Linked DNA regions of Homo sapiens: regions 2, 3, 4, 5, 6 and 7 are each linked to region 1. Evidence: fine-mapped expression QTL. A gene starts in region 1. Each other region holds a variant in brackets. All regions are shown on one strand. Distances are between the middles of the regions. Region 1 holds the start of PRMT7 (protein arginine methyltransferase 7). Region 2 overlaps CTCF (CCCTC-binding factor). Region 3 overlaps DUS2 (dihydrouridine synthase 2). Region 4 overlaps SMPD3 (sphingomyelin phosphodiesterase 3). Region 5 has its middle 18 kb from the start of ZFP90. Region 6 overlaps PRMT7 (protein arginine methyltransferase 7). Region 7 overlaps SMPD3 (sphingomyelin phosphodiesterase 3).

Region 1 (4,065 bases):
GTATTTGCTAGGCGGTGGTGGCTCACACCTGTGATCCCAGCACTGTGAGGGGCCGAGACGCAAGGATATCGAGTCTGGGAGTTCCAGACCAGCCTGCGCAACATAGTGAGACCCCGTTCTCTACAAAAAATTTTTAAAAAAATTAGCCGGGCGCGGTGGCCTGTGCCTGTAGTCCCAGTTACTCCCAGCTACTCGGGAGGCTGAGGTAGGGGAATCACTTGAGCCCGGGAGGCAGAGGTTGCAGTGAGCAGAGATGGCGCCACTGAACTCCAGCCTGGGTGACAGAGTGAGACCCTGTCTTAAAAAAAAAAATATATATATATATATATATATATAAATATACATATATTAAAATTAAAAATTACCCGAGTGTAGTGGCGCGTGCCTGTAGTCCCAGCTACTCGGTAGGCCGAGGTGAGGATCGCTTGAGCCCAGGAGGTCAAGGCTGCAGTGCGCCTCGATCACACCACTGCACTCAGCCTAGGCAGCAGAGTGAGACTCTGTCTCGAAAAAATAAAATAACAAAATTTATTAAATACCTTCTATGTGCCAGGCACTATATTAGGGACTGGAGCCACCACCACAAGCTAGAGAAGACCCTTGCCCTCCAAGAGCTTAGACTCTAATGAGAGAGTAATACAAATTACAGACTACATGAATGCAAGAAATACACAGAGCGTTGTAGAAAGAGAAAACCAAGGTTACAGAAGGACTCTGAGGAAACTAGCATTTGAGATCTACAAGACAGACCGGGATAAAAGTTGGGGAAGAGTTTTTACAGGTCAGGAATCCTTACCCCAACTTTCCCAAGAAAAGGCCCTAAGGTAGAAAGAACTAGGTTGCATAAGCAAAATGTGCCAAAAGCCTGAGCGACCGAAGCACTTTTGCAGAAGCCCCCCGCTCCTCATCTCCTATCACATCTTCTGCTCAATCAAGCTGGGCCTTGTCGACTTCGGAAAGGCGTTTGGATTTTGTTCTAAAAGCACTGGGAGCCACTCAAGAGTTTTAAGCAGAAGCGTATCTACACTAGGCTTACGCTTTTACAGGACCACTCTGGTTGGCGTGTAGTGAATACACGACTCTCCAATTACTCAGAACAGTGAGTGGCAAAGACAACAGGTCTGGCAATCAGAGAACTCGTGGCCCAGTTAGGGGTGCGATGGTTGGAGCTACTGCGGTCTCTGTGGCTGAGGGGAGGCGCCAGGCACGAGTACTGCGACAGAGCCCCGCGAGTGGCAGGCACCCGGCTGCACTGCAGAGCCGGGGCCAGCCTAGAACCCCGCTCTCCTGCAGGCCCGGGTGTCCCGAGCTGCCCCACGCGGAGGAGTCCAAGTAGGCCCACGCTAGGCTCCTCTGCCGAAACCCTGGTGCCAAGGACACCATGCTCGCTGCACACAGAACCCCAAAGCGACCCCACCTTCCCAGCATACCCAGCGCCTCACCCGCCGCGGGAAACCCTCCGCTCGCCTCCGCTGCTACCACTTTTACCGCGGCCAGCACGCGGGGCGGGACCTCGCAGCGTCGAGGAGCGTGCTGGGGGGCGGGTCCTAAAGCAGAACTGGAAAGCTATCCCATCACACCCCGCGAGCTCCCACAGTGCTCAGCGGCAGCCACTATGGAGGCCGCCAGGACCGCTGTACTCCGGGTGAAGCGGAAGCGCAGTGCGGAGCCGGCGGAGGCTCTTGTGCTCGCTTGTAAACGCCTCCGGAGCGACGCGGTCGAGTCAGCGGCACAGAAGACGTCGGAGGGTTTGGAGAGAGCGGCGGAGAATAATGTCTTCCACTTGGTGGCCACTGTGTGCTCCCAGGTATTGGGCGTGGTGCAGCTGGTGTGGAGGGCATCTTCGGGTGCAGCCGGTACGAAACCCGATCCCTGACCCGCTCGCGAACTCCTGCTTACGCTGGCCTCCGTCCCCTGTTGCCCCCTAGGAGGAACCAGTCCAGCCTCTCCTGCGGGAAGTTCTGCGCCCGTCACGGGACAGCCAGCAGCGTGTCCGCCGTAATCTCCGCGCCTCGGCTCGGGAGGTCCGGCAGGAGGGCCGCTACCGGGTGCTTTCCAGCCGCCGATCCTTGGGGACCACCTCGAGCGGCCAGGAGTCCGAGTACACGCCGGGGAACCCAGAAGCCGCCGGGAACTCGGGCTTTCAGTTGTTAGACCTTGTCCACGAGGAGGGAGAACCTGAAGCCGCCTCTGCAGGCTCCTGCAAAGTGAGTATGCCCCTGAAGGTGGTCGCTGGGCTTCTCAGGATGGTAATGCAAGAAGACTGGGCCCAGTCGCAGCACAGTTTCATCTTAAGGGGATGGATGATCCATCCGGCGTGACGGCCTCATTTTACAGATTTGGTTGTTCATCCAACATGTGTTTACTACGTGCCTACGATATGCCAGGTATTTTTTTAGATTCTGTGGATACAGCAGTGAGGACCTAACATGCAGGTAGACAGAAACAGTAAACAAGTCTATTCAGTGTCAGATGATGATAAGGGATGTAAGGAGGCGGGGAGACAAAGCAGGAAGAGTGGTGCCACTTCAGTGAGAGTGTCACTGAGGAAATGACATTTGAGTGAAGACTTGCAGAAGGTGAATGGCAGGGTATTCCACATATCGAGAGGACTTCTAGGCAGAGAACCTGAAAGTAAAGAGGCCCTTAAGCCGTTTCTTTGCTCCTTGCAAGGTGCCTGGAGCCCGGTGAGCTAGAGGAGAGCAGTAAGGAATTTGAGGGGAGGATGCCTGCTAGGTACTTGCAAGGACATTGCCTTTCACCCTGACTGAGATGGGGATCACTGGAGCAAAATAGAGATAGAGCAGGTAGGAAAATTGATCAAAGAGAGGTTAAAGGAATAGTCCTGGATAGCATATCAAGTTTGAGGTAGATTTAGGTCTAGAATGCAAGTTTTCTCACATTTAATCCAGTGCTTTTCTTTATATTACATTTGCTAACTTCATTTGCAATCACTTCCAAAAAAAGTCTACTACATGCAGCAAAACTACAGAAATGGAAAATTCTCCTTGAGGCTGGGCACAGTAGCTGACGCCTAATCCTAGCACGTAGGGAGGCCCAGGCGGGAGGATCACTTGAGCCTGGGGAGGTCAAGGCTACAGTGAGCCATGATTGTGCGGCAGTGGCATTTCAGCCTAGGTGACAGAGTGAGACCCTGTCTCAAAAAAAAATAAAATACTCCCTGTAATCCCAGCGCTTTGGGAGGCTGAGGCAGGAGGGTCGCTTGAGGCCAGCCTGGGCAACAAAGCAAGACCTTGTCACTACAAAAAGGAAGAGGAAATTAGCTGGGCATTGTGGCACGCGCTTGTAGTCCTAGCTACTGGGGAGGCTGGGGCAGGAGGATCACTTAAACTCAGGAATTAGAGATTGCAGTGAGCTGTGATCAAGTCACTGCCCTCTGGTTTGAGCAACAGAGCAAGATACTGTCTCTAAAAAAAAAACCAGAAAATTCTCAACATAAAGTGTGCCCTCTCTTTTTTTTTTTTTTTTTGAGTCAGAGTCTCACTCTGTTGCCCAGGCTAGAGTGCATTGGCATGATGCTGGCTCACTGCAACCTCCAACTCCCGGGTTCAAGCAATTCTCCTACCTCAGCCTCCCAAATAGCTGGGATTACAAGCGTGAGCCACCACACCCAGCTAATTTTTGTATTTTTAGTAGAGACGGGGTTTCGCTATGTTGGCCAGTCTGGTTTTGAACTCCTGGCCTCAGTGATCCGCCCGCCTCAACCTCCCAAAGTGCTGGGATTACAGGCATGAGCCGCTGCGCCTAGCCAATATGCCCTCTCTTGATAAACATTTTTATAGAACTCATTTTAATTATTTTTGCAACTTAAAACAATTATAATTCAAAATGAATCCACAAGCAACAAGCAAATGGTACTAGTGTAATTGTTTATTGTTGTTTTTGTTTTGTTTGAGATGGAGTCTCGCCCTTGTCGCCCAGGCTGTAGTGCAGTGGCGCGATCTCGGCTCACCGCAGCCTCTGCCTCCTGGATTCAAGCAGTTCTCATGCCTCAGCCTCGCGAGTAGCTGGGATTACAGGCATGAGCCACCACACCCGGCTAAT
Region 2 (4,065 bases), 690 kb after region 1:
AGCAATTCTCCTGCCTCAGCCTCCCGAGTAGCTGAGACTACAGGCGCACGCCACCAGGCCTGGCTAACTTCTGTATTTTTAGTAGAGACGGGGTTTCACCACGTTGGCCCGGCTGGTCTCAAACTCTTGATCTCAGGTGACCAACCCGCCTCAGCTTCCCAAAGTGCTGGGATTACAGGCGTGAGCTACCGCGCCTGGCCCCACTCATAAGTGTTACACACCAAGTTTTCACACACATAAGTCGATAACTATCCTAACAGCGTTACTAATTCTTTTCCTTCAAGATTTCCCTATTTAACCTGTTAATTTCAATATGTACCAGAACCTACTCTGTTCCAATGAGCTATCTATTCCTACTGCAATATCACACTGGCTTCATTTACTATAGTTTTACAAAATCCAATGGCACAAGCCCCTCATTCTATTTTCAAATTTTTCTTAGCCATTCATATTTATTCTTCCAGTTGAAAGTTAGAATCAACTTGTAATGTTTCTTCATTTATTCAGGTCCTCTGGAAAAGTTACTGAGGTTTTCTTCATGTACATTTCATAGATATTTTTTGTTGTTCAGTTTATCCCTCAGTTATTTTATTGCTATTAGAATCCATTTCATACCTTCCTATCACTATTGACGTTACTGATTTCTGTATGCTTATCTTATATCCGGCCAGTGAACTGAACTCTTATTGCTCTAAGTTTTTGTTCTGATACTCTTAGATTTTCTCTGTAAGCAAATCTCTCTGCAAGAAATAACAGTTTTATCTTTCCATTAATAATTCATTTCTTGCTTTATTCGATTAGCTAGGATTTCCAGTACAAAGCTGAAACAGTAACATTAAGAATGAATATCTTGTCATATTCCAGATTTTAATGGAAATACTTTCAATGTTTCAGAATTAATTAGGATGAGTTTATTATACATTTCTGGTATATATGCTGTTTAAAATTTTTTTGAGGGGGAGTCTCACTCATCACCCAGGCTGGAGTGCAGTGGTGCGATCTTGCCTCAATGCAACCTTCACCTCCCAGGTTCAAGTGATTCTCCTGCCTCAGGCTCCCGAGTCGCTGAGACTACAGGCGCATGCTGCCATGCCCAGCTAATTTTTGTATTTTTAGTACAGATGGTGTTTCACCATGTTGGCCACACTGGTCAACTCCTGACCTCAGGTGATCTGCCCACCTCAACCTCCCAAAGTACTGGGATTACAGGCGTGAGCCACCATGCCCAGCCTAAACACATTATATTAAAGAAGTTTTCTCCTATACGTAACTTGCTAGGACATTAAACAGTAATTAATGATTACTGAATTTTAGCTCCCATCCCATCTACAGAAATAATATGGTTTTTCTTCAATCCTTCAATGTAATATACATCAGCAATTTCCCAATGATAAACAATCTTTGTGTTTCAGATATATTCAGTATCACTTATTTTTAGAACGTATTACTAAATTAGGTTGGCTCATTGGCTAATAATTTCATTTAGAATTTTTGCTTCTCTCTGAGGGTAAGTTTTCTTTTTGGTAGTTTTCTGACCCAGTTTTGGTAACAGTGTAGCTTCAAATAATAAAATTGATAAACCTACCATTTTAAAATGCTCTGGGTACAGTTTTTTCTTCAAAGTTTGACAGAATTTGCCTGTATTAACATGTGAAACTGGTACTCTTTTTTAAGACGGAGTTTCACTCTTGTTGCCCAGGCTGGACTGCAATGGCACGATCTCGGCTCACTGCAACCTCCACCTCCCGGGTTCAAGTGATTCTCCTGCCTCAGCCTCCCAAGTAGCTGGGATTACAGGCATGCACCACCACGCCCAGCTAATATTTATTTATTTATTTATTATTATTTTTTGAGATGGAGGGAGTCTCGCTCTGTCGCCCAGGCTGGAGTGCAGTGGCGTGATTTCAGCTCACTGCAAGCTCTGCCTCTGGGGTTCACGCCATTCTCCTGCCTCAGCCTCCCGAGTA[G/A]CTGGGACTATAGGTGCCTGCCACCACACCCAGCTAATTTTTTGTATTTTTAGTAGAGACAGGGTTTCACCGTTTTAGCCAGGATGGTCTCAATCTCCTGACCTTGTGATCCACCCACCTCAGCCTCCCAAACTGCTGGGATTATAGGCTGTGAGCCACCAGGCCCAGCCTAAATTTTTTATTTTTTAGTACAGATCGGGTTTCTCCATGTTGGTCAAGCTGGTCTCCAACTCCCGACCTCAGGTGATCCGCCCACCTCAGCCTCCCAAAGTGCTGGGATTATAGGCGTGAGCCACCGCACCCAGCCAGAAACTTGACTCTTTTTAACAAGTAAATCTTTCACAATCATCATAAGTTTTTTGGGGGAGCGGTGTTGTGTGGGAGTGTTAATAATTTACTAACATTTTTCTACCTCATCTTAAGTCCGTTTGGGTAGTAGTTATAGCTTTGTATTGAAATAAATCATGGTCTGCCTAAGAGAGATACCAACAAAAAGCTGAACACTCACTTCTACACTGGCGTAATCGCACATGGAACACTTGAATGGCTTCTCGTGGGTGTGTTTGTAACGACGATGCCGAACCAATTCTCCACTGGTCACAAAGGCCATGTCGCAGTCTGGGCACTTGTGAGGACGAGTACCTAGAGAAAGGATGGAGTAACAGGAAGAGCAAGATCAAGGGCACAGTTAATGACAGAGTTCAATGTGTGGCACAGAACTGCTATGAGACTGGAACCCTATTCATCCCATCAACTGCAGTAGCTTGAAAGCAGATACAAAAGTCAGCTCCGAAAACTATGGGAGGGCCTGGATGAATTTATACTAACACCAGGATATTATAACACATACCAAATTAGTTTCTCTTAATTACCCATCTGAATCCGCTGCCTTTGAATACAATAAAAACCTTCTTATTCCTATTTTGTGAATATCCTGGTCATTATGGATTAAAAGTTAATAGAGACCGGGCTTGGTGGCTCATGCCTCTAATCCCAGAACTCTGGGAGGCTAAGAGTTTGAGACCAGCCTGGGCAACATAGCAAGATCCTGTCTCTCAAATCTCGTTGTATTATGACTATAAATATAGGGCCATTGGGCTGTCCATATTCTGCAACTTTCTTTTAAAAACACAAACATATAACTTGTTTTCCACATGTATCTGTCTTGATAAGGAATTTCAGAGGCTTATCACAGGCTTTACATAGTATTTCCTTTTATGTGATTTAAACAAATGATTTTCAAACATCCATGTCTAATATGCTGTGATCATTCTGAATGTCAATTCATCCAATATAAAACATGAATAATATACTCTCTACATTTCTTGTCTTTCACTGAAGGAATCTTAGAGACAAAACTGAGAGCACAATGCAGTGCTAGTTTCACAGACTAGTGACCATCTGTAATTGTGGGCAGCAGGTAAGGGGTGACAGCAAGGTAGTATCAAACACTAAAACCAAAGGAAGGCTGCCTTTGAGGATACAATTAGGAAGAGCCACAATGTAATGAATAGAACCAGCCATCTGCAGAAATGATTCTCTTTGAGAATGAAGAGAATGCTGGAGAGGAAGAGTGACTGGAGTATAATAAAAACTAAGCAATTCCAAGGAATGTTCATTTGTTCATTCGATTCTTTAGAACCACTATGGATCTAACGGTAAAGCACAGAGTTCTTCCTGTGAAAGTGTATAGTCTGGTGGTATGGATAAGAAGTAAAACAATTAACAAGAGAAGAAAAGTGGCATCCAATTTTCTTTTCGTTTTTTGTTTTTGAGCCAGGGTCTTCCTCTGTTACCCAGTGGGAGTGCAGTGATAGGATCAAGGCTCACTGCAGCCTTGACTTCCCAGGCTCAAGTGATCCTCCTACTTCAGCCTCTCCAGTAGCTGAGACTACAGGCTTGCACCACCATGCCTGGCTAATTTTTTCTATTTTGTAGAGATGGAGTCTTGCCACGTTGCCCAGGCTTGTCTCAAACTCCTGGGCTCAAGCAATCCTCCGGCCTCGGCCTCACAAAGTCCTGAGATTACAGGTTGTGAGCCACCATGCTTGGTCTTCTTTTAGAACAAAGTAAGCTAAAAAATAAATGCTCGTGTTTA
Region 3 (4,065 bases), 250 kb after region 1:
CCAGCCTCAATCTATGCTTTTTATCTGGCTTCAATTTTTGAACCATGAGAACACAGCAGATATTCAGCTAGTATGTACATGTGTGGCATATTGATTGGTGTCTCTTCTGACTGATCAGTGCCAGTGCTGTGCCAGTTAATTATTTTCAGTAGCACCCCTGTAATGGGAATTTACTACCTATGCATAACCAGATAAAAACTTAAGTTTCCTTCCCCAGAGGAAATCAATGTTACTAGTTTCTTCTGTGTCTCTCCAAAAATCTTCCCTGAATAAACAAATAAATATATATAATCATTCCCTATCCTCCTTATATAAATGGTATATACCACCTTACCCTGCCTCCAGATCATTTTAACTCTGCTCCTCACATAATTTAGGAACACAAAGAAGTAATCAGAAAACAGCAAAACCACCGGGCACAGTGGCTCACACCTGTAATCCCTGCACTTTGGGAGGCCGAGGCAGGTGGATCACGAGGTCAGGCGTTCAAGACCAGCCTGGCTAACATGGCAAAACCCCGTCTCTACTAAAAATACAAAAAAAATTAGTTGGGTGTGGTGGCGGGCACCTGTAGTCCCAGCTACTCAGGAGGCTGAGGCAGGAGAATCGCTTGAACCCAGGAGACGGAGGTTGCAGTCAGCCGAGATTGCACTGCTACACTCCAGCCTGCACGACAAGAGTGAGACTCCATCTCAAAAAAAAAAAAAAGCCCAAAGATACCTAAAGTCCAAGTCCAGCTGATCTTTTACCAACCAAGGTTTTCGATCCTGCAGTCTGCTTCTTCTTCATCATCTCCCACTCGACAAACCTCTGGTCAAATCGGGCTACTCAGGCCTCCCTGTGTCTACCTCATATTCATCCCCAGGCCCCTGCTTATACCACACCCTCTGCTTACAGGGTCCTAAATCTCAGCCCAAGGACAATATTTCCCTATCAAATTCCAAGTTTAAAGGCTGCCTTTCCACTCCCTTCTCTGGGCTACCATAGTCTGATCTCTTCTGATACGACAATGGGAACATTTACACTGCATCCACTTTTTTTTTTTTTTTTTTTTTGAGACAGATTTTCGCTCTTGTCACCCAGGCTGCAGTGCAGTGGCATGATCTTGCTCACTGCAACCTCCGTCTCCCAGGTTCAAGCGATTCTCCTGCCTTAGCCTCCCAAGTAGCTGGGATTACAGGCACACACCACCACGCCCAGCTAATTGCTTGTAATTTTAGTAGAGACAAGGTTTCACCATGTTGGTTAGGCTGGTCTCAAACTCCTGACCTCAGGTGATCTGACCACCTCAGCCTCCCAAAGTGCTGGGATTACAGGCATGAGCCACCAGGCCTGGCCTTTTTTTTTTAAACTTTTGAAAATTTTTATAGAGACAGGGTTTCACTCTGTTGCCCAGACTCATCTCAATCTCCTGGGATCAAGTGATCCTCCTGCATCAGCCTCCCAAATTGCTAGGATTACATGTGTGGGCCACCACTCCCGGCCTCCTCTCTTTTTTTTAAATGTATGTCTCAGTTGTTTTCCCTTTTTTTTTTTTATAATCCTCCTCTGGGCTTTCTGGGATATGTGTCTCAGTCTTATTCATGAAAAGACACAGCCCTGTCCCCTCTATTTTTCTCTGTACCTTTGCATTGTTTTATTACTTGGGCATGAGTTCTCTCTCTCTCTCTCTTTCTCTCTCTCTCTCTATATATATATATGTATCTATACACATACACAATTATATACATTTATATATGTAATATATATTTATTATATATTTATTTTATATACTACATATATTATATATTTATATATTTATTATATATTTATATATGTAATATATAATATATGTAATCTATAATTATATATTATATATTTATAACATATATATTACATATATATATAAATATATATTACATATATTTATATGTATTATATAATTATATATTATATATTTATATATTTATTGTATATATTTATATGTGTAATATATAATTATAGATTACATATAATTACATATATGTGTATTATTATATTATATAGAATAAATATATATGTAATATAATATACCTATATATTATATAACATATAAATAATATATAACATTATATAATATATAACATTATATATAATATATAATAAAATATATATAATCTATGTATGAATCTATATATGTATGTGTGTGTGATATATGAGTGTGTGTGTATATGTATAAACCACTTGAGGGTAAATTACATATATCATAGCCCCTTACTCCTAAATATTTCAGTGTGTATTCTCTAAGAACAGGGATATTCTGTTACATAACCACAGAAGTTATCTTCATAAGTTTACA[T/C]TGATACAGTATATTTAGCTAATATACTATGGTCCCTATTCTAATGTTGTCAGTTCATCTAACGATATCTTTTTGAGCATTTTCCCCATCTAGTACAGAATCCAGTCCAGAGTTAGGTACTATACTTAGTTATGTCTTGTCAGCCTCTTAATCTGCATCCTATGTTTATGAGGAGTATAAAGAAACCAGTTTACCTTGGTGGAATATTGTTTTGGACAGCCCATGTTGACATCAATACCAGCCACATCATTTTCTCTGGAAAAGGATGAAGGAGTAAAGGTAATAAGTATTGAATTAGAGCAAAGAAGGTGAAATTAAAGGCATGGATGGGCCTGTGCTCATGAACCTCTTACCCTGTCCCTGACTCTATGAAACACACCAACCCCCAATGACAGAAGCTGAAAAATGGGAAAGAAACCCATCCTTAAAACGTGCACCTGCCTCATCTAAGCAGAAATCCAGAGAAAAGACATAATGTGTGCACACATCTATAAAGGGCTAGATGAAGAGGGCTTTGCTACTTTGGAGTTGTATCAGATAACTCAGATGGGCACACTGAACTCGGCTGAAATAGTAAAAGCCATTTGTCAATGCAGAAAAGTGACATGAGCCTAAGAGCCCTTTGCCAGACGACAGCTTCTGGTGGAAGTTCTAGCACTGCCTTTGTTGGCTGGGCTGCACAGATGGTTTAATCCAAACAATTCTTAGATGTCAAAAGAATCCTCACTCCGTCCTCTGGTATGTATTAGGTTGGTGCAAAAGTAATTGCGGTTTTTGCCATTGAAAGTAATGGCAAAAACCGCAATTACTTTTGCACCAACCTAAATAGTAATACATAGTTAATAGTCCGTGATCAGCAGCAATAACTGCCTGAGTTCCCACTCACTCTTTGTAATTATAACGATAGCTAACACTTACTAAGATGTCAGTATGTGCCACATGCTGCAAAGACATTTACAGGCATTATTTCATTTACCCTTCCCTATGCCAGAGGTTGGTAGCACTATTTTATAGGTGAGAAAACTAGGTTCTCATTGAGGTTAAGCAACTTATCTCAGGTCACACAGTTAACAAGTAGCAAAACCAGAATTGCAAACCAGGTCTGTCTTAACTTCAAAACCTATCACATTAACTATAGCACTCTCCTGCCTTTGTTTTTGTTCTTGAGACAGGGTCTCACTGTGTTCCCCAGGCTGGAGTCCAGTGGCGCAATGGAGGCTCACTGCAGCCTCGACCTCCTGGGCCCAAGTGATCCTTCCACGTCAGTCTTCCAAGTAGTTGGGACCACTGGCATGCACCACCATTTTTGTAGAGATGAGCTCTGCCTATGTTCCCCAGGCTTCCTATCTATGTTAATTCAGGAAGCAATATGTCTTACCTATACTTTGATACTTAAAGCTTCAGGACTCATAGTCATGGGAGTCCCTGGGAAGGAGTTTCACGAATAAATACAAAAAAACAGCTCCCCCCAATATGCATAGAGGGTCTCTGAGATCTAGGCACTGTAGGTACACATGAGTCCCAGGCCAGCCCTTGGATGCCACAAAGAGAAGGAAACTAGACACTCTTTTTTTTTTAAGACAGAGTCTCGCTTGGTCACCAGGCTGGAGTGCAATGGCGCAATCTCGGCTCACTGCAACCTCTGCCTCCCGGGTTCAAGCGATTCTTCTGCCTCAGCCTCCTGAGTAGCTGGGACTACAGGCACGCGCCACCACACCCAGCTAATTTTTGTATTTTTAGTAGAGACA
Region 4 (4,065 bases), 72 kb before region 1:
CTTGATAGATCTGAAGGTGTCAGATCTATCAGGGGCTGGTTACCTCCCTTTCTAGTATGCAGACTGCAAGCTTGTGCAATACATGCACAGAAACACTCAGCTATCAAGAGAGAAAGGGCCTGTTTGGCCTCAGCCTAAGGTCCTCTAGTTATCCCAGGGGCCATGGGTGGACTGGCTGAGTTTTGATGAAGGGATCTTCTCTGTGAATCTTGAACCCTGAGTTCCTCTGCTGAGGCCATGTTCCTTCACACAGATGACGGCTGTCAGGGAACAGCCCCAACAGAAGTGTGGAGGCCTGGAAGGGCACAGTGGGGGACTGCTCGGGTCAGGGCCCCTGGAGCTCCAGGAGCAAGAGGAGACAGAGGAATCAGGCCACCAGATATAGCCTGCCCTTCCCTGCCTAGGTGCCTGGGCAACCTCCTGGAGTCCGCAGGCACTACTGAAGGGCCATAGGGGAGCAGTGTGGTATGATGTGTAGTTTAGAAAGACCCCACCAGCTGCCAGGTGGGCCAGAGGAGGGAGACAAGGTGGAATCTGTTACAGTGTCTAGGTTGGAGAGGGCGAGGCCTGAACTGGGATATGGCTGTGGGAATGGATCCAGGGGACTAGGGGGCAGAATTGTGAGCTGGGAAGAGGAGACAGGGTATGGAAGAGGTCCAGGGCCCAGAACTATTTGGGAGACAGAATTGTATGTGGGGAAGTGGGGGGAGGAGGAGTAATAAACTTCTAGAGGAAGATGTAGAGTTGTCAATCAAATACATGTGGTCAGAGATCAGGAGATACCTGGGCTGGCTGTCACCTGGAAACAGGTAACCCACAAGGGATCAGCCGAGAAGGGAGGGAAGAGGCAAGAGAAAGTCCAGCCCCTAGGAAGTGGGCAGGGAAGGGGCTCTGAGGGATCCTCCAAGGGCCCTGAGAAGGAGCAGTCCCATGGTGCGGGGAGCAAGAGGATGGCGCCAGGACCAAGGGGCAGCAAGTGGAGAACAGATGAGGAATGAGCCTCTTACACCTCCGGTTGGGCCTATTTCCTAAGGCCAATCTGGTTGAAACTGCATGGACTGTTTTCTCAGAGGTGCTGACCTCTGTTCTGGACGTTTTCTTTCCAAAACTTTACCAAGAAAGTCTAGTGAGACACTCTGTCTTCCTTTTCTCTTGTGGTGTGCGGGGGAGGGCAGGCAGCCTCAGGTGGGTTGCCATCCAGACCCCCAACCAGCCAGAGGGCCACTCAGCCCTCCTGGAGTTCAGGACAGATGCAGCCAGCATGCTCTGAGCAGAAGGGATGACTTGAGCCAGCTTGCTCTGCACAGTGTAGGTGGGATGCTATCCGGACAGGCTAAGCATTTAAGTTAAACAAACCTGGCTGGGCGCAGTGGCTCAAGCCTGTAATCCCAGCACTTTGGGAGGCTGAGGCGGGTGGATCACCTGGGGTCAGGAATTCGAGACCAGCCTGGCCAACATGGTGGAACCCGATCTCTACTAAAAATACAAAAAAAATTAGCTGGCACATGCCTGTAATCCCAGATACTCGGGAGGCCGAGGCAGGAGAATCGCTTGAGCCCAGTGGGGGGTGGAGGTTGCAGTGAGCAGAGATTGCACCATTGCACTCCAGCCTGGGCGACAGAGCGAGACTCCATCTCCAAAACAAAAAACAAAACAAAACAAAACAAACAAAAAAACTAACTGGGGGCAAACTAAGTGAATGCAGGGGATCCTCCCCTCAGGCCCGTGTTCCCCAGCTGCCCCTCCTGGAGGATGCCTCCTTGTCTGCAGTCAGTGATCTGGTAGTCATTATGGTCCTCAAAGGCATGGCCCTGGCAAGGCAGGATTCCCTAAGTGGCTCCACCTCCCTGAGTCCACTCTCAGTTCCCTTTCTGTCCCACCACCACACCTGTTCCTCCCTTGCTCACGGCTTGCTCCACCCAATACCCACCACCTTCCTATCTCCACACCCTCCCTCGGGGACACCCCACCCTTAACTATACACAACTAGGAGGCAAAGTCTCTGCTGCCAGAAACCCTAGGCCCTTGCCGTGCAATACCCTGAGCAGCCACTATGCTGCATCTGACTCGCCCAGTGCCCCCAGCCTCCCTGCTTAACAGCTGCTGCCCAGCCTGCCCCTGCCAGCCCTGGGTGCACTGTCAGCTAGCCACACCTGGCAGTGTCTCGCCAAGCTGGGCCTCTGGGCTTTGTCTCTATCTGAGCCCACCTTAAAGGATCCCCAGTGTTGCCTCCTGCCCCTCCCCTACAGGGCTCACTTGGACCCTGTGACCAACCCATACCCTGACCCCTG[G/A]CAGAGGTTTCCGGTGGATTTACTTCTCCACGTCTACGGATTTACTGTGCTACCTGTGTCACCAAAGCAACCGCTTCTCTGAGCAGAAAGTTTCTACTACAAATTAAAAGATTAAGACTCAGCTCCCCTGATGCTTCATGGTGCTAGAAGAACTTGGACAGGTAGGAATGGACTTTTTTAGGCCACACTGAGGAGGTGAGGAGTGAGCCTACCGCCTGGCCTGGATTCAGGACAAAGGAACATCATTATTGTTTCATTATCCTTGAGAGCAGGAAGAGTTGGATTGGATTGGAGGGTAGATCTGGCTGTATTCTTGAGAAACTGCAAGCTGTCCGTAATGAGGCTTGTTTTCAGCATCAAGTAAGTGGACTAATTACACAGCCAATCAGAAGCTGTCCTCTATTGGTCAGGATGGGATGGGTCATGCGGTGGTTATAATCAAAGGTTTTCTTCTTGCCCACACTACATGTGGGTTAGCTGGGGCCCTGCTCCATGTCTCTTCACCCTGGACTGAGGCTGACGGAGCAGCCACCATCTCCAACACTGCAGGTCAATGTGGCAGAGGGAGAGAGCTCTGGAAGGTTCCACATCTACCGTTTAAGTACTTAAGCGCAGCAATACCCGAGATCACTTTCACTCACAGCTCATTGGTCAGAACTCATCACGTGATCCCACCCAACCGCCAGAGGACCAGGAAGTGCAGTCCTACCTCTTGGCTGGACATCAGGTTCCAGGTGCTCCAGGGGCCAGAGGAAGTGAGGCAAGAGTCCTGTCTCGGGCTTGGAAGCAGAGGTAAACTAAAGGGAAAAGAGCTCTGGTCTCCCCTTATCAGATGTACAGCAGCCCTTGGTTGGGCCTGAGCTGGGGCATCCTCTCTCAAAGGGGAGGGTGTTCTGGCTGGTTCTCTTGGATCCAAGGGCTTTCATGGTGCCGTGTGCAGAGGGATGGTCTTTCATGGTGCCATGTGTAGAGCAGTGGCCTGGGGTTAGAGGTCTCCAAAAGGGTCCAGGACGGGGCCTCAACCCTCAGCAGTGAGGCCTTGCCCCAGTCCAAAAAGCCCAGCCGCCTGGGAGGGTGAGTGAAATGCTGACACCTGATTTTATTTACTCATTCTCACTCACTTGCTTCTTAAGGTCTGCATAAATTTTCCTCTAGGACTCAGTTTGTTAAATGTTCTTTGCATAGAAAACTTTAGACTGAATGTGAAATGATTCCCTTCCGAAGAATGTTAGCCCGTCTGTTCTGTTTTAGGAAGGTTTGTCGTCTTAATCTGTGTTCTCTGGTGCCTTGAAATGCCTACACATCGTGTAGTCGGCCAATCCGTTCCAGAAGGAAATGCTGTACTTGAAATGCAGCCGACACAGGGTCTGCCTAAATCCTAACATTTGTGTGGACTTGTGTTTAAAATTCTACTCCCACAGACAGTATGCTGTCATCCCCTCTTAAGTAAAGCATATTCCAAGCCTTGTTAGGCTCATGAACCATTAACATCAGCCTTCATGTCAGGGAAGTAGGGACTTGGCTGGGACAGAAATCTCAACAGCAGAACCTGAGAGAAGCAAGGCCCTCCTGGTCTCCTTCCTATGAAGGGCAGAGGTGGTGCTGAGGGCAGAGGGCCTCCTGAGGATGCAGGTGGCGCTGGTCAGCCGGGAGCAGGTGACGTGACCTGCTTTGGTGTTCCAGGATCCCTTGCTTTGGTGACTTGCAAGGCCCAGCCCAGGCACAGGCCTCAGCACCCAGGCAGGCTCAGAGCACTTGAGGTTGGAGGCCTTGC
Region 5 (4,065 bases), 210 kb before region 1:
ACTCCATCTTAAAAAAAAAAAAAAGAAAGAAAGTGGACAAAATGAGCCAAGGACAGGATAGAGAAGGAGGGCAGAGAAAGAGTGAGGGACTAGAAATTAAACAAATTTGGGCCAGGTGCAGTGGCTCATGCCTGTAATCCCAGCACTTTGGGAGGCTGAGGCGGGCAGATTGCTTGAGCCCAGGAGTTTGAGACCAGCCTGGCCAACATGGCGAAACCCTATCTCTACTAAAACTACAAAAATTAACCGGGCCTCGTGGTATGCACCTGTAGTCCCAGTTACTTGGGAGGCTGAGGCACAAGAATCACTTGGACCCGGGAGGCAGAGGTTGCAGTGAGCCGAGATCGCACCAGTGCACTCCAGCCTGGGCCACAGAGTGAGAACTTGTCTCCAAAAAAAATAAAAAATAAAAAATTAAACAAGATTGTTCTCATGCTATATTTATTGAATTATGTTTGTATCTGAATTTATTTATTTATTTGAGACGGAGTCTTGCTCTGTCGCCAGGCTGGAGTGCAGTGGTGCAATCTGAGCTCACTGCCACCTCCGCCTCCCAGGTTCAATTGATTCCTCTGTCTCAGCCTCCCGAGTAGCTGGCATTACAGGTGCCCACCACCACACCTGGCTAATTTTTGTATTTTTAGTAGAGGTGGGGTTTCACCATGTCGGCCAGGTTGGTCTCAAACTCCTGAACTCAAGTGATCCACCCACCTTGGCCTCCCAAAGCGCTGGGATTACAGGCATGAGCCATGGCACTTGGCCTTGTATCTGAATTTTTAAATAAACTTGCAAATTAATTAACTTGCAAATATTATAGCCGAGATAGTTTTTGTTCATGGCTGATGTCCTCCAACATTACAACCAGATACATGGATCCAAGAACCTGGTCTAGATTGTCCTGAGGCTGGGCCTGCCAGGGGCCCAGTTACAGAGATATTTGACAGCCAAGCAGGTTCTGTCTGTAAGAGGAACTTACCCACTTATGTGCCCACGAACTGTGTGCTGAGTTAACTGAGCTAAGCTTATGACATAAAGGCTTTATTTATTTATTTATTTATTTATTTATTTATTTATTTTGAGATGAAGTTTCACTCTTTCACCCAGGTTGGAGTGCAGTGGCGCAATCTCGGCTCACTGCAACCTCTGCCTTCTGGTTTCAAGTGATTTTCCTGCCTCAGCCTCCCGAGTAGCTGGGATTACAGGTGCCCACCACCACGCCCAGCTAATTTTTGTATTTTTAGTAGAGATGGGGGTTTCACCATGTTGGCCAGGCTGATCTCAAACTCCTGACCTCATGATCCACCCGCCTCGGCCTCCCAAAGTGTAGGACCACAGAGGCTTTGCTTTATTATAAAGAGTAATGGTTTTTGAGAAGAGCTAAGACAGCTCCTTCATTGTATAGATGAAACTAAAGCCCAGAGAAAGACACTAGTTGGAGGAGGAAGAATGTGGTATAGGAAGGAAAAGATGCCTGTCATCTGCTGGAGGGATTCTTAAGTTACATTGTAGCATTATGTCTTCTTAAATTCACCAGGTAAAAGCTTATGCTTAAAACTATTTAAATTCAAAAGTGGTAATTTAAAAAATAGAATGCTGAGTGAAGTGGCTCGAACCTTTAATCCCAGCACTTTGGGAAGCTGAGTCCGGAGGATCACATGAAGTCAGGAGTTCGAGACCAGCCTGGGCAACAAAGCAAGAGCCTGTCTCTACAAAAAATACAAAAATTAGCTGGGCATGGTAGCATGAGCCTGTGGTCTCAGCTACAGGAGGAAGGCTAAGGTGAAAGGACGGCTTGAGCCCAGTAGTTCGAGGTTTGAGGCTGCAGTGAGCTATGATTGCACCACAGCACTCTAGCCTGGGCGACAGAGTGAGACCCTGTCTCAAAATAATAATAATAATAATAATGATGATGATGATAATAAAGTGAACACATTGCTTGACTGGGCTTTGCTCATTTGCTTTGCTTTCTTCCATTCTGTTCCACTTTCTCTTCGCTCTGTT[T/C]CCAGGTCTGCTGTTGTGTGATCTCCAAGTGACTTTCCCTCTCTGGGTTGCTATTTCATCTGTACAATGCAGGAGCTGTTTTGGCTGATCCAAAACACCATTTTAATTTTTCCTACCACAACTGCTAAGTCCAGTTCAACCAGTGAAGGTGTGACCTGAGCAGAGGTGAGAAAACACGAAGGTGAAAGTAAGCTGGGTCCTTCATCTCTGCCTGGACCTTGGCCTGGGCTCACGGCCTGCCTGGGGCTGATGGCCACAGACCCCCGCCCCCACCCCAGCGTCTGATACGCCGCGCCTGGGGCGATCTTGGTACCTCCCCGCCACCGCGTGGGGACAACACATTCGCAGCTCCGCGGTTACCAAGGCGACCCAGCTGGTGTATCCTCGGTAGCCCCCTAGCGGACACTTATGGAACCTGCAGTTCTTTCCTTTACCTCGGGCGGCGTATTTCACCTGCAGCCCTGTCCAGAGAGGGGGCGGCTCTCTTACCTGGCCTCTGTATTGCTTCTCTCTACCCTGAGCCTGGCCACCCGCCCCACCTCTCCAGACATTTCGGTTTCTCCTCCAGGGACCAGGCTTCTCTGGCTTTGTCACCCAGGCACAACAGCTCTAATTACCCATCCCTTCCAGCCAGGGTCCTGGGGACTTCAGAAGGGCTGTCACCCACGGCACTTCCAAAGTCCCTCTCGAGAGTGTAAAAGTCTGGCCGGGCGCGGTGGCTCACGCCTGTAATCCCAGCACTTTGGGAGGCCGAGGTGGGTGGATTATCCAGCCTGGCCACCATGGTGAAACCCCGTCTCTACTAAAAATACAAAAATTAGCCGGGCGTAGTGGTGGGCGCTGTAATACCAGTTATTTGGGAGGCTGAGGTGGGTGGATTATCCAGCCTGGCCAACATGATGAAACCCCGTCTCTACTAAAAATGCAAAAATTAGCCAGGCGTAGTGGTGGGCGCTGTAATACCAGTTACTTGGAAGGCTGAGGCAGGAGAATCGCTTGAACCTGGGAGGCGGAGGCTGCAGTGAGCCGAGATCATGCCACTGCACTCCAACCTGGGCGACAGAAAGACTCTGTCTCAAAACAAAAAAAAACAAAGAAGAGAGAGTGCAATTTATTATTATTTTTTTCTGAGACAGAGTCTCGCTCTGTCGCCCAGGCTGGAGTGCAGTGGCACTATCTTGGCTCACTGCAACTTCCGCCTCCCGGGTTCAAGTGATTCTCCTGCCTCAGCCTCCAGAGTAGCTGGGCTACAGGGGTGCACCACCAGGCCTGGCTAATTTTTGTATTTTTAGTAGAGCTGGAGTTTCACCATATTGGCCAGGCTGATCTTGAACTCCTGACCTCAAGTGATCCACCTGCCTCGGCCTCCCAAAGTGCTGGGATTACAGGCGTGAGCCACTGTGCCTGGCAATGAGTGTAAAAATCTTATGTGATGTGGAGTAAAATACCCTTCCCTCGGCCAACCCCCTGTCCACACCCCACCCCCAGCAACCCTTGACTCAGACTCTGGCTTTGGGATCCACTTTTCCTTACAGGCCTCGTGCATCTGTGTGATGGAATCCCATAGGCAGCACAGCCCGGCCGGAATCCAGGGAGCCACTAGTGCATGGGGTGGGGCAGCATCACCAGAACTGGGCATACAGCCTCTGTTGGGAGACAGGCAAGCATACAGACAAGCCAACCCAATACAGGACTGGAGGTGGGCAGTCACAAGGTTGGTGGCGCAGTGTGCTGGGAGCACCACATGGAAGGGGGAGGACCACAGCCTGAGCTGGGCAGAAAGGCTTCCTGGAGGAAGTGATGCTTGAGCCTTGAAGGATGAGTAGGCGCTGGCCTGGGGTAGAGATCTCAGTGATGGCTTGAGGGGTGGGGGAGGACTTCTCTTCAGAGTCTACCTTCCTGAGTGTCACTCCTCATCAGGGCCCCTCCTTGCCCTTTTCCTCTTCTCACCCTGTCCCCATTCCCTGGGCAACCTTCCCCAGCCCAGCAAATGTAACCAGCATCTCCTTGTTACACGTGATCCTTTTCTCCTCGTCACAGGCAGTCCCTGGATGTGCCCTGGAC
Region 6 (4,065 bases), 45 kb before region 1:
CCCACAAGCTCCCTGTGCTTCCACTCCCTTCCCAGCTGGGGAGAGATGTCTCTGTGTTGGAGCATTCTCAGCACCTCAGAAGCACAAGCAGGGGGGTCTTCCCAGCCCCTCCAGGGCTCCAAATTCAGTCACCCTCTCATGCTTCCTGCCACAGCTGGAGCCAGAGGCCAGCAGTGCAAAGATGCAACAAGATGCAACACGGCGCAGTCTTTCCCATCCCTGAGGCCGAGCAGCTCCCAGAGAGGAGAGGAGGGCCTTCAGCCTTCCCCGCTAGAAAGCCATGAGCCACTCAGAACCCCAGCCCTCAGGCCACTTTATTGCTCAAGAGTGGTCAGTCTGGGGTATCTGCATGCCTGAACTCCATGATGATGTCGCCTGTGTCGGGGTGAAACTCCACTGCATAGCTGACAGTCCGTGGGCCACCCAGCAGTGCTCTGGGATCTGGGGCAGGGCTGAAGAAGTAGACGGCCTGCTTGCAGTGGGGGTTCCAGCAGCAGCCCCCCTGTAGGAAGAAGAGCAGGAAGATGGTGAGGGCTCCCTGGCACCTGAGCCTCCTTCCTAGCCAGCCTCCAGCCCAGGCAGCTCGCAGCAGAGAGAAGCTGCTCAGGGGCCAGATGGCCCAGGACCACTGAGGGGTCATCATCTGGCCCGAAGAACTTGTGACAGAAACACCCAGAGCATGGGGGCAGGGAGGCCTCCCCAGGCGGCGCCTGCTCTCAGGGTCTGCACGCACACTGGGCCCGGTGCGCAGGCACTACCTCGGGGTCTGCAGGCTCCAGGAGGCCAGTGCTGAGCGTGCACTCCGGGGTCAGGTGGTACTCCATCCATAGCACCGCTGCGTGGCTCTGCCCGGGCCTGTCAAGGAGAGGGGGGCCCAGCAGAAGTAGTCACACAAGAGGCAGCGGGGGAACAGCTGCAGCTCCTGCGGCTTTCCAGAAACCTGTGGTCTTCCCCACTTCCTTCCTGCCCTGCCGGGAGTTCCTAGTGCTGCAGTTACATAAACGTTCCTCAGAAAAACCCCAGCCAGAAGAGCCGCAGCCAAGCCCCCACCTGAGCCAACCCGAGCCCTGCAGCCGGGCCACACATGGGGCAGGGCCGGTGTGGCTGCAGGGTCTGGGGGAGCTTGAGGCACAGCCTGGCACTGAAGGCCGGAAGGCCCCTCTGATGCCCCAGACAGCAACCCTGGGAGCTCAGGTGATGGCGCCCGCCCTGCCTGGCTGCCTGCCCCGAGTTGGGAGGTGCTTCCAGGAGAAGTCACTCCTCGGGCGAGGGTGGGGTGAGGGCCGGAGCAGGACAGGGCTGCCCGTCCCTGGACGCAAGCAGCACTTGCTGACCCTGACCTGCTTCAGCTCCCAGGAGGGTTCAGGAAAATGGTGCATCGGTGACCACAGGAAGTAAGCTCCCATCTTCCTGAGCTGTGATCCAACAAGGGAGCCTCAGCTGTAGAGGGGGAGCAGAGCCCTTCCTGGCTCCTCCACCAGTGGCACACACAGGACCGTGGGAACCACCACACGCGCAGGGCCACTCTGACAGGGAAGGGCAAGGTTGTGGGGAGGACGAATACCCCCTCCACGTGTCAGCGTCTCCCAGGCCAGCTGTGCTCACCACGGGGGTGAGAACTCCAAGGGCAAGCAGCAGCCCCTCCCTGCCCCCCAGCCCTCTCTGCACCCACCTTCTGAGCTCCAC[G/A]GTGCCCTCGGCACACAGGGGCTGCAGGGGCACCGGCTGCTGGAAGTCAAAGGTCAGGATCTGCCAGGGCTCGGAGAGGCTGCGGCATGGGTACTCCCACAGCGGGTGGGGCTCAGCTTCCCTGCTCTCCCTGAAGTCCAGGGCACGCTGCGAACAGAAGGGGGCCTGGGGGCTGCAGAGACAGGCCGGCAGCTAGACAGAGGTACCGCTCCCCGGCTTGGCTCCCACTGACTGCAGTCACAAGGGGTGTGCGTTCTCCCATAAAGATGCCGAGCGCCCAGCAGACCAGCGGCGCCCCCTCTCTGCCACTTCTCTCTCATCAGTGGCTCCCCAGGCACCGCTGGCTCTGAGCCTCGCTCTCCGGATTTTTAAGATGGGGTGGTGCTGCCTGTCTCAAGCCTTCTGAGGACCACATATCTACATCACTGGTGAGAACACCCAGCACCTAGAAACTTGGTGACCACCACAGCTGTGTGGCCCCGACAGGTGGGCCCCGGGCCACAGGGAGGGATAAATGCGTGACAGTACAGCCCCGGTGCCTGGCGGCAGGCTGGGGGCACCTGCATCCAGGAGGGATGCAGAAAGCTACCTGGAGGAGGGGAGGTGACGGTCAAATGGGAGCCGGCAGGAGAAGGGCCAGAGGGGGCCTTGAGGATAGAGCTAAGTCAGGAGAGCAGGCCAGGGCACCCAGGCCAGCCGGGCCACTCTGCAGGTGTGGTGTGGGGAGCCAGCTAGGGCATTCCTGCAGTGGGGATGTGGCCAGACTCAGATCTACAAGTTCATGTGGGCTCCGTGTGGAGGACGGCCAGAGCAGGAGGGGCTCAAACCAGGACGGCAGCAGTCAGGGGACAGCCTGGGTCGGAGGCTCACCAGGAGCACGAAGACCAATGGCAGGGGATGGGAGGACTTGCCAGGGAGGATGCCCGGGGCCCTGGGCCTGGCTGGTCGTGTGAAGTGGCGCCAGGTCTAAGACAGGGCACTGGAAGGGCCAGGCTAAGGGTGGGGAAGGGCAGGTGGATTTGGAAAGCATAGAAGTAAAAATGCCTGGCACCCCACTGTGGGATACCCACCACTCTCGGCCATCTGCCTTAGCACACGAGAGACAGACACTGGCCCAGGACCAGAGTAGCAGAACCGTATCAGCAAGAGGGGACAGGGACAGCCAGGGTGGGCAGGCCATGAGCAGGGGCCCAGAGGAGGCGTAGAGCGCATGGGTCCAGAGCACGCAGGGCTCAGCACGAAGGAGATTTCTAAAAGCATCGAACAGTCAATGGTCTGCTGTGAGGGGCAGATAAGATACAAACTGAAAATATCCACAAGGTTTAATTTACTTAAAAAAGTGTTCACACACAGGCAATCCATGTTCACTATGGGAAAATGAGAGCAGAAAGGTGAGCAGAAGCAGAAAAGCCCCACCTCCCGATGCATAGCTGCTGCTGCGGGGCCACCGCTGCTTCCCGCTCCTCTGGTGTCCATGAGATTTCTTTTTTTGAGACAAGGTCTTGCTCTGTCACCCAGCCTGGAGGCAGTGGCACAAACGCAGCTCACTGCAGCCTCGACCTCCCAGGCTAAAGCCATCCTCCCACCTCAGCCTCCTGAGTAGCTGGGAATACAGGTGTGCACTACCATGCCTGGCTAATTTTTTGTTATTTTTTGTCGAGACAGGGTCTTGCTATATTGCCCAAGCTGGTCTCAAACGTCTGGGCTCAAGCAATCCACCAGCCTCAGGTTCCCAGAGTGCTGGGATGACAAGCAGGAGCCACGTGCATTTCCTTAATACACAGCACGGCCCATGCTCCTCACCCTGCCCCTCTCATGTGGATGGAACACGACTCTCAGCTTCAGTCCTCATGAATCCAAGGACCACTGGCGCTGTCAGGACAGCCCATGGTTCTGGAGAACGTAGGCCCAGTTGCTAACCCCTACCATGTAAATAACCTGTGGGAATCTCCTCAGGTACCCCTCCCGGGAATGGAGCCCCCACCATGGAAATGGCTGCCTAAGAAGGTTCCCAGATGGCCTCTGGAAAGTCAGCCCCACTAGAAAAGAAGCTGTGGGCACTGGCAGGGGCAGTTGCAATGACAGGACGTGCAGGCCCAGTGGAGATTCTGACACAGGGTGACAGCACGGAGCCAAGAACAGGGCTGGTACCAAGCAATGCTCATGTTGAACCACACAAAATGGCAGCACCTGACCTCACTGCCCCCAACAGAAGAGCCTGTGCTGCCCAAGCTGGGACCCTGTGAGAGGCCTGCGATACAGGAGCAGGTCGGGGGTACTATGCAGAGTGTGGCCCTGCCTACCTTAATCATGTCGTCCATGATGTGCACGTCGAAGCCTTCGCAGTCACCACAGGGGCTCCGGATCCGCCACAGGTCC
Region 7 (4,065 bases), 57 kb before region 1:
TGAAGCAACTCCTGACAGATAGATCCAACCTTCCCATTTTGGCATATGGTCCGTTGGTGTTCTGTTCCCTGGATATATTTTTGTCTCGACAGCTAGAGTGACTTTCTGGGGAGGAAGGGGATGTGTTGCCAGGTCCAGGGTGGGAGGATGTGCCCCTTACTCCCACCCCTCACTCCCACCCTACTACAGGTGGCTCAGAGGCCGGGCCCTCCCCCGCCCCCTACCCCAGCCCACTTCTGCACAGATCAATCCACACATCCTGTCCCCACCTCCCTCCTCTGTGGGGCACCCTCACTGTTCCCACTGAGCTCAACAGTGTCTGCCTGGGACAGCCCCTCCTCCCAGGTTCTGTCCTGAAAGTTCTTTTCATCTTCCTCTACCTCCTGGGTCTCAAACTGTAACCTGATCTATGACATTCAAAAATTTTTTGTATTGACCAATTTTTTTTTTTTTTTTTTGAGACGGAGTTTCACTCTTGTTGTCCAGGCTGGAGTGCAGTGGCACGATCTCGGCTCACCACAACCTCTGCCTCCCGGGTTCAAGCAATTCTCCTGCCATGGCCTCCCAAGTAGCTGGGATTACAGACATGCACCACCACGCCTGGCTAATTTTTTATTTTTAGTAGAGACGGAGTTTCACCGTGTTGGTCAGGGTGATCTCAAACTCCCGACCTCAGGTGATCTGCCCACCTCGGCCTCCCAAAGTGCTGGAATTACAGGCGTGAGCCACCATACCCAGCCTTGACCAATATGTTAAAATCAAGATATTTCACAGAAAACCCGGTTTGCAGGTTCTCTCAGCAGCCCCAGGCCTGCCACATTCCGTACCCCACGCGGCTGCAGTGAGCTGGAGCCGTGGTTGGCTGCCCCGCAGTGGGGTTTCCCAGCAACCATCATGACACCTGCCTGGGAGTGAGACTCTGCAGCTTCCATTTCTGCCCTTTCTGAGGCCCCTCTGCTTTGTCCTGGCCCAGACCTCTCCCCCCAGCCCTACATCTGGCTGCCTCCAGGACACATCCCCATTCACTCGCAAACCAGACTCAGCCTCTGCCCCGGGCTGCTCCTCTTCTGTGTTCTGCCATCCTGAAGCCAGAAGGACCACCTTGGCTGCTCTGTCCTGTGCCCGACCCATCCATTCCAGGCCCCTAGCTCACTTTCCAGATGGCCCTGGGTGCACCCCACATCTCCAGCTCCCTTGGCCCAGGCCCCCTCCTCTGCATCAGCCCTGCTGTGGTTTCAGCCACCCTCCTCGTCTGAGGCCAGGTGTGACTCCTCTTATGCCCTCCACTGCCTCAGGAAGTCTGAACGTCACCTTGTACCACCTCCCGCCCCCCTGCCCCCGCCACCCTTAGCTCCAGCTCTGCCCCAGCCACAACCCCGATGAGGGGCTCCTGTACCCCTGGCCCCTGCTTGTCTTGGTCCCACACTGGGTGTGGCCACACCACCTCATGGAGCTCCCTCAGCGGCCAGCCACACAATCCTCTCTTCCCTTCATGGGCTCCTCTGCCCTCGTGCCCAGGGTCTTGTCTGTCCATCAGACAGAGCACCAGGACAGCAGAGCTGTGGTGTGCCCAGCACACGCGGATCCCAGCGCGGAGAAGTGAAGTACGTGGGGCTGCCTTGGGGACAGGCCCAGCCGGAGAGGGGCCGGGACGCTGGAGGGACTCGCTGCAGAAATCAGCGGTCCCCTCCTTCCCGGAAGGCCCTCATGGTTTCCCGTATGGGACTTCAGAGCCTTCAGGGAAATGTGGCTCTGTGAAGGAAGGGACTGGAATCCCTTTTTCCTCACCTACAATAGAGCCTTATTCTGGACACCTCTTCCGTTGACAGTCTTTGCCCGCCAGGACTCAAAGGCACAGCCTTTCGTGTGATTGCTTGTTTTTGCAAGAGAAACACAAGGCTCTGCGGCTCCCAAGGCCACGAGCCAGGAATCAATGAGGCCCAGCAAATAATCAAGTGGATCTTGGTGAGATCACACGGCAGATGAGGAGGGAGAAGCGGGGCGGGAGGGAGCAGGACCTCGTCACTCCTCCGGCCAGTGGGTTCTTGTCGTGCAGGGCCCAGTCTGAGGCCTCCCTGCGAGTGTCCAACCCTGTCCGGGACACAGCGCGGGGCAGGTGACACCAAGTGTTGGATGAGTGAGAGGCTGACGCCTTAAGACCAACAAACAGGCGGCCGGGGAGAAACCGCAAAGACACCAGCCCCTCAGAAAGCAGCGCAGAGCAGCGCAC[AGCAGCGCACG/G]ACAAACAGATCCGACTGGAAGCTGCCTCTTAGACCATGTGAGCCTGTGACCCCGGCCCACAACTCAACTTCTGGCCTCAGTGTGTTCAACGGTAAAAGCAGCATCACTTTATCATGTGCCTGAGCCGTTGTAAGGACCCAGAAAAGTAATGTCCATGCGTCGCCACCCCACCCCAGCACGAGCCCACTGGGCCTGAGATGATCCTCATGGAGGAGGAGCAGTTGTTGCCTGAAGACGGCGCCCCCGTGTGGTCTTTTATTTATTTTGAGACAGTCTCATTCTGTCGCCCAGGCCAGAGTGGTGCAATGGGGCGATCTTGGCTCACTGCAACCTCCGCCCCCCAGGTCCAAGGGATTCTCCTGCCTCAGCCTCCTGAATAGCTGGGGTTACAGGCATGCACACCCAGCTAATTTTTTTTTTTTTTTTTGAGACAGAGTCTCACTCTGTTGCCTAGGCTGGAGTGCAGTGGCATGATCTTGGCTCACTGTGACCTCCGCCTCCAAGGTTCAAGCGATTCTCCTGCCTCACCCTCCTGAATAGCTGGGATTACAGGCACATACCACCACGCCCGGCTAATTTTTGTATTTTTAGTAGAGACAGCGTTTCACCATGTTGGTCAGGCTGGTCTCAAACTCCTGACCTTGTGATCTGCCTGCCTCAACCTCCCAAAATGCTGGGATTACAGGTGTGAGCCACTGTGCCCAGCACACCCGGCTAATTTTTGTATTCTTAGTCGAGATGGGGTTTCATCATGTTGGCCAGGCTGGTCTCGAACTCCTGAACTCAGGTGATCCACTTGCCTCGGCCTCCCAAAGTACTGGGATTACAGGCGTGAGCCACCGTGCTCAGCCTCATGTGGCCTTTTGAGCATGGCGGCTTCATCAGTGTTTTGTTTTTGCAGCAGAACCATCAATGCTGCGTGATCTCACAGAGCCATTCGGGGGGCGGGGATGCTGTTAGGCTAAGGTTTGGGTCTGTCTGTGGGCAAGAAGTGAATGGTGAACCTGTGGGGCTGAACAGCCAGACGTTCGTACCCCCAGGTGCTGGGGAAGGAAGGCTGTGCATTAGGGCTGGGAAGGGGATGAAGAGCTGTAGAAAGCCAGGGGCACCTGCTGCTGAGGACGTCCAGATGGAGGAGATAATACCAGCCTGACCGACTGCAGCAGTGAAGGAAGGACGGAGCCTGCCGAGGCTGTTGGAGCAGATGGGCTGTGACGTTTGGGCTGCTGTGAGCTCCACAGATGTGGGGCACCCACCCTGCGGCCCTCTGCCCTCAGCCAACAACTGGGAGAGGCAGTGTGTCCTGCCCAGCCACCTCCCTGGAGTGCTTTTTGGGTCTGGGGTCTCCTCATCTTGGGAAACTCAGTCTGGAATGGATTTGCATGGCTTGGGGAGGGTACAGAGGCACAGGAGGGAAGGAATCCCAGGGGCAGGGGATGAGGAGCTGGTAAGCGGCCTCTCTGTGCAGGGCATCTCTGTGGCCATCCCTCACCTCTCCTGGGCTGAGCACTGACAAGGGCTCCATCTTGCCCCCACCTGGGGTAGGGCAGTTATGAATTGCCTGCAGGGTACAGTGGAGATGCTAATTTGTATTAAGCCAGCCTTTGGGATCCTGCCAGGGTCACCTGCTCCGTCTTGGGTAAAGGAGGTAAGCAGGAGGTCGGGGCAGAGGGGAGACCTGAAGAGGATGCTGCCACAGTGGGCTCAGGATGGAGCCAGGGGTGTGCAGGGGCCAGCCTAGGACACAGGTCAGGGAGCTCTCATCCAAGACGGGTGACAACGGGACCACGGCCTATAAAGCAGATGACTCACCATGCAGCCAGA

The links.
Region 2: its variant is fine-mapped to the expression of PRMT7 in fibroblasts (GTEx, PIP above 0.99).
Region 3: its variant is fine-mapped to the expression of PRMT7 in lymphoblastoid cells (GEUVADIS, PIP 0.95).
Region 4: its variant is fine-mapped to the expression of PRMT7 in whole blood (TOPMed, PIP above 0.99).
Region 5: its variant is fine-mapped to the expression of PRMT7 in fibroblasts (GENCORD, PIP 0.93).
Region 6: its variant is fine-mapped to the expression of PRMT7 in whole blood (TOPMed, PIP above 0.99). The same link has a PIP of 0.9 or more in anterior cingulate cortex, atrial appendage, coronary artery and subcutaneous fat.
Region 7: its variant is fine-mapped to the expression of PRMT7 in cerebellum (GTEx, PIP 0.99).

Annotation. Positions count from the first base shown.
Region 1 is chr16:68,308,477-68,312,541 of GRCh38, reverse strand. It overlaps PRMT7 (protein arginine methyltransferase 7), which reads right to left and starts at 1,523. Exons shown (of 19, transcript NM_019023.5): 1 at 1,443-1,523; 2 at 366-500. SLC7A6OS (solute carrier family 7 member 6 opposite strand) reads left to right here and starts at 1,596. Exons shown (of 5, transcript NM_032178.3): 1 at 1,596-1,807; 2 at 1,929-2,207. The coding sequence starts at 1,616. RefSeq lists an enhancer at 1,627-2,591.
Region 2 is chr16:67,615,289-67,619,353 of GRCh38, reverse strand. It overlaps CTCF (CCCTC-binding factor), which reads right to left. Exons shown (of 12, transcript NM_006565.4): 5 at 2,476-2,609. Among named protein-coding and RNA genes, the nearest start is that of CARMIL2, 28 kb to the left of the region's middle. The variant G/A (reference allele first, on the strand shown) is at 1,968.
Region 3 is chr16:68,054,871-68,058,935 of GRCh38, reverse strand. It overlaps DUS2 (dihydrouridine synthase 2), which reads right to left. Exons shown (of 17, transcript NM_017803.5): 7 at 2,512-2,572. Among named protein-coding and RNA genes, the nearest start is that of NFATC3, 28 kb to the left of the region's middle. The variant T/C (reference allele first, on the strand shown) is at 2,318.
Region 4 is chr16:68,380,432-68,384,496 of GRCh38, reverse strand. The region is part of intron 2 of SMPD3 (sphingomyelin phosphodiesterase 3); the gene reads left to right. Among named protein-coding and RNA genes, the nearest start is that of SMPD3, 66 kb to the left of the region's middle. RefSeq lists enhancers at 923-1,757, 1,758-2,594, 3,961-4,065. The variant G/A (reference allele first, on the strand shown) is at 2,292.
Region 5 is chr16:68,519,125-68,523,189 of GRCh38, reverse strand. No RefSeq gene overlaps it. Among named protein-coding and RNA genes, the nearest start is that of ZFP90, 18 kb to the left of the region's middle. RefSeq lists enhancers at 2,076-2,125, 2,166-2,215, 2,236-2,315. The variant T/C (reference allele first, on the strand shown) is at 2,002.
Region 6 is chr16:68,353,491-68,357,555 of GRCh38, reverse strand. It overlaps PRMT7 (protein arginine methyltransferase 7), which reads right to left. Exons shown (of 19, transcript NM_019023.5): 16 at 3,990-4,064; 17 at 1,673-1,833; 18 at 759-855; 19 at 1-502. The coding sequence ends at 332. Among named protein-coding and RNA genes, the nearest start is that of PRMT7, 45 kb to the right of the region's middle. RefSeq lists an enhancer at 805-964. The variant G/A (reference allele first, on the strand shown) is at 1,687.
Region 7 is chr16:68,365,611-68,369,675 of GRCh38, reverse strand. All of the region lies in intron 3 of SMPD3 (sphingomyelin phosphodiesterase 3), which reads left to right. Among named protein-coding and RNA genes, the nearest start is that of PRMT7, 57 kb to the right of the region's middle. RefSeq lists enhancers at 955-1,154, 1,581-2,133, 2,134-2,687. The variant AGCAGCGCACG/G (reference allele first, on the strand shown) is at 2,231.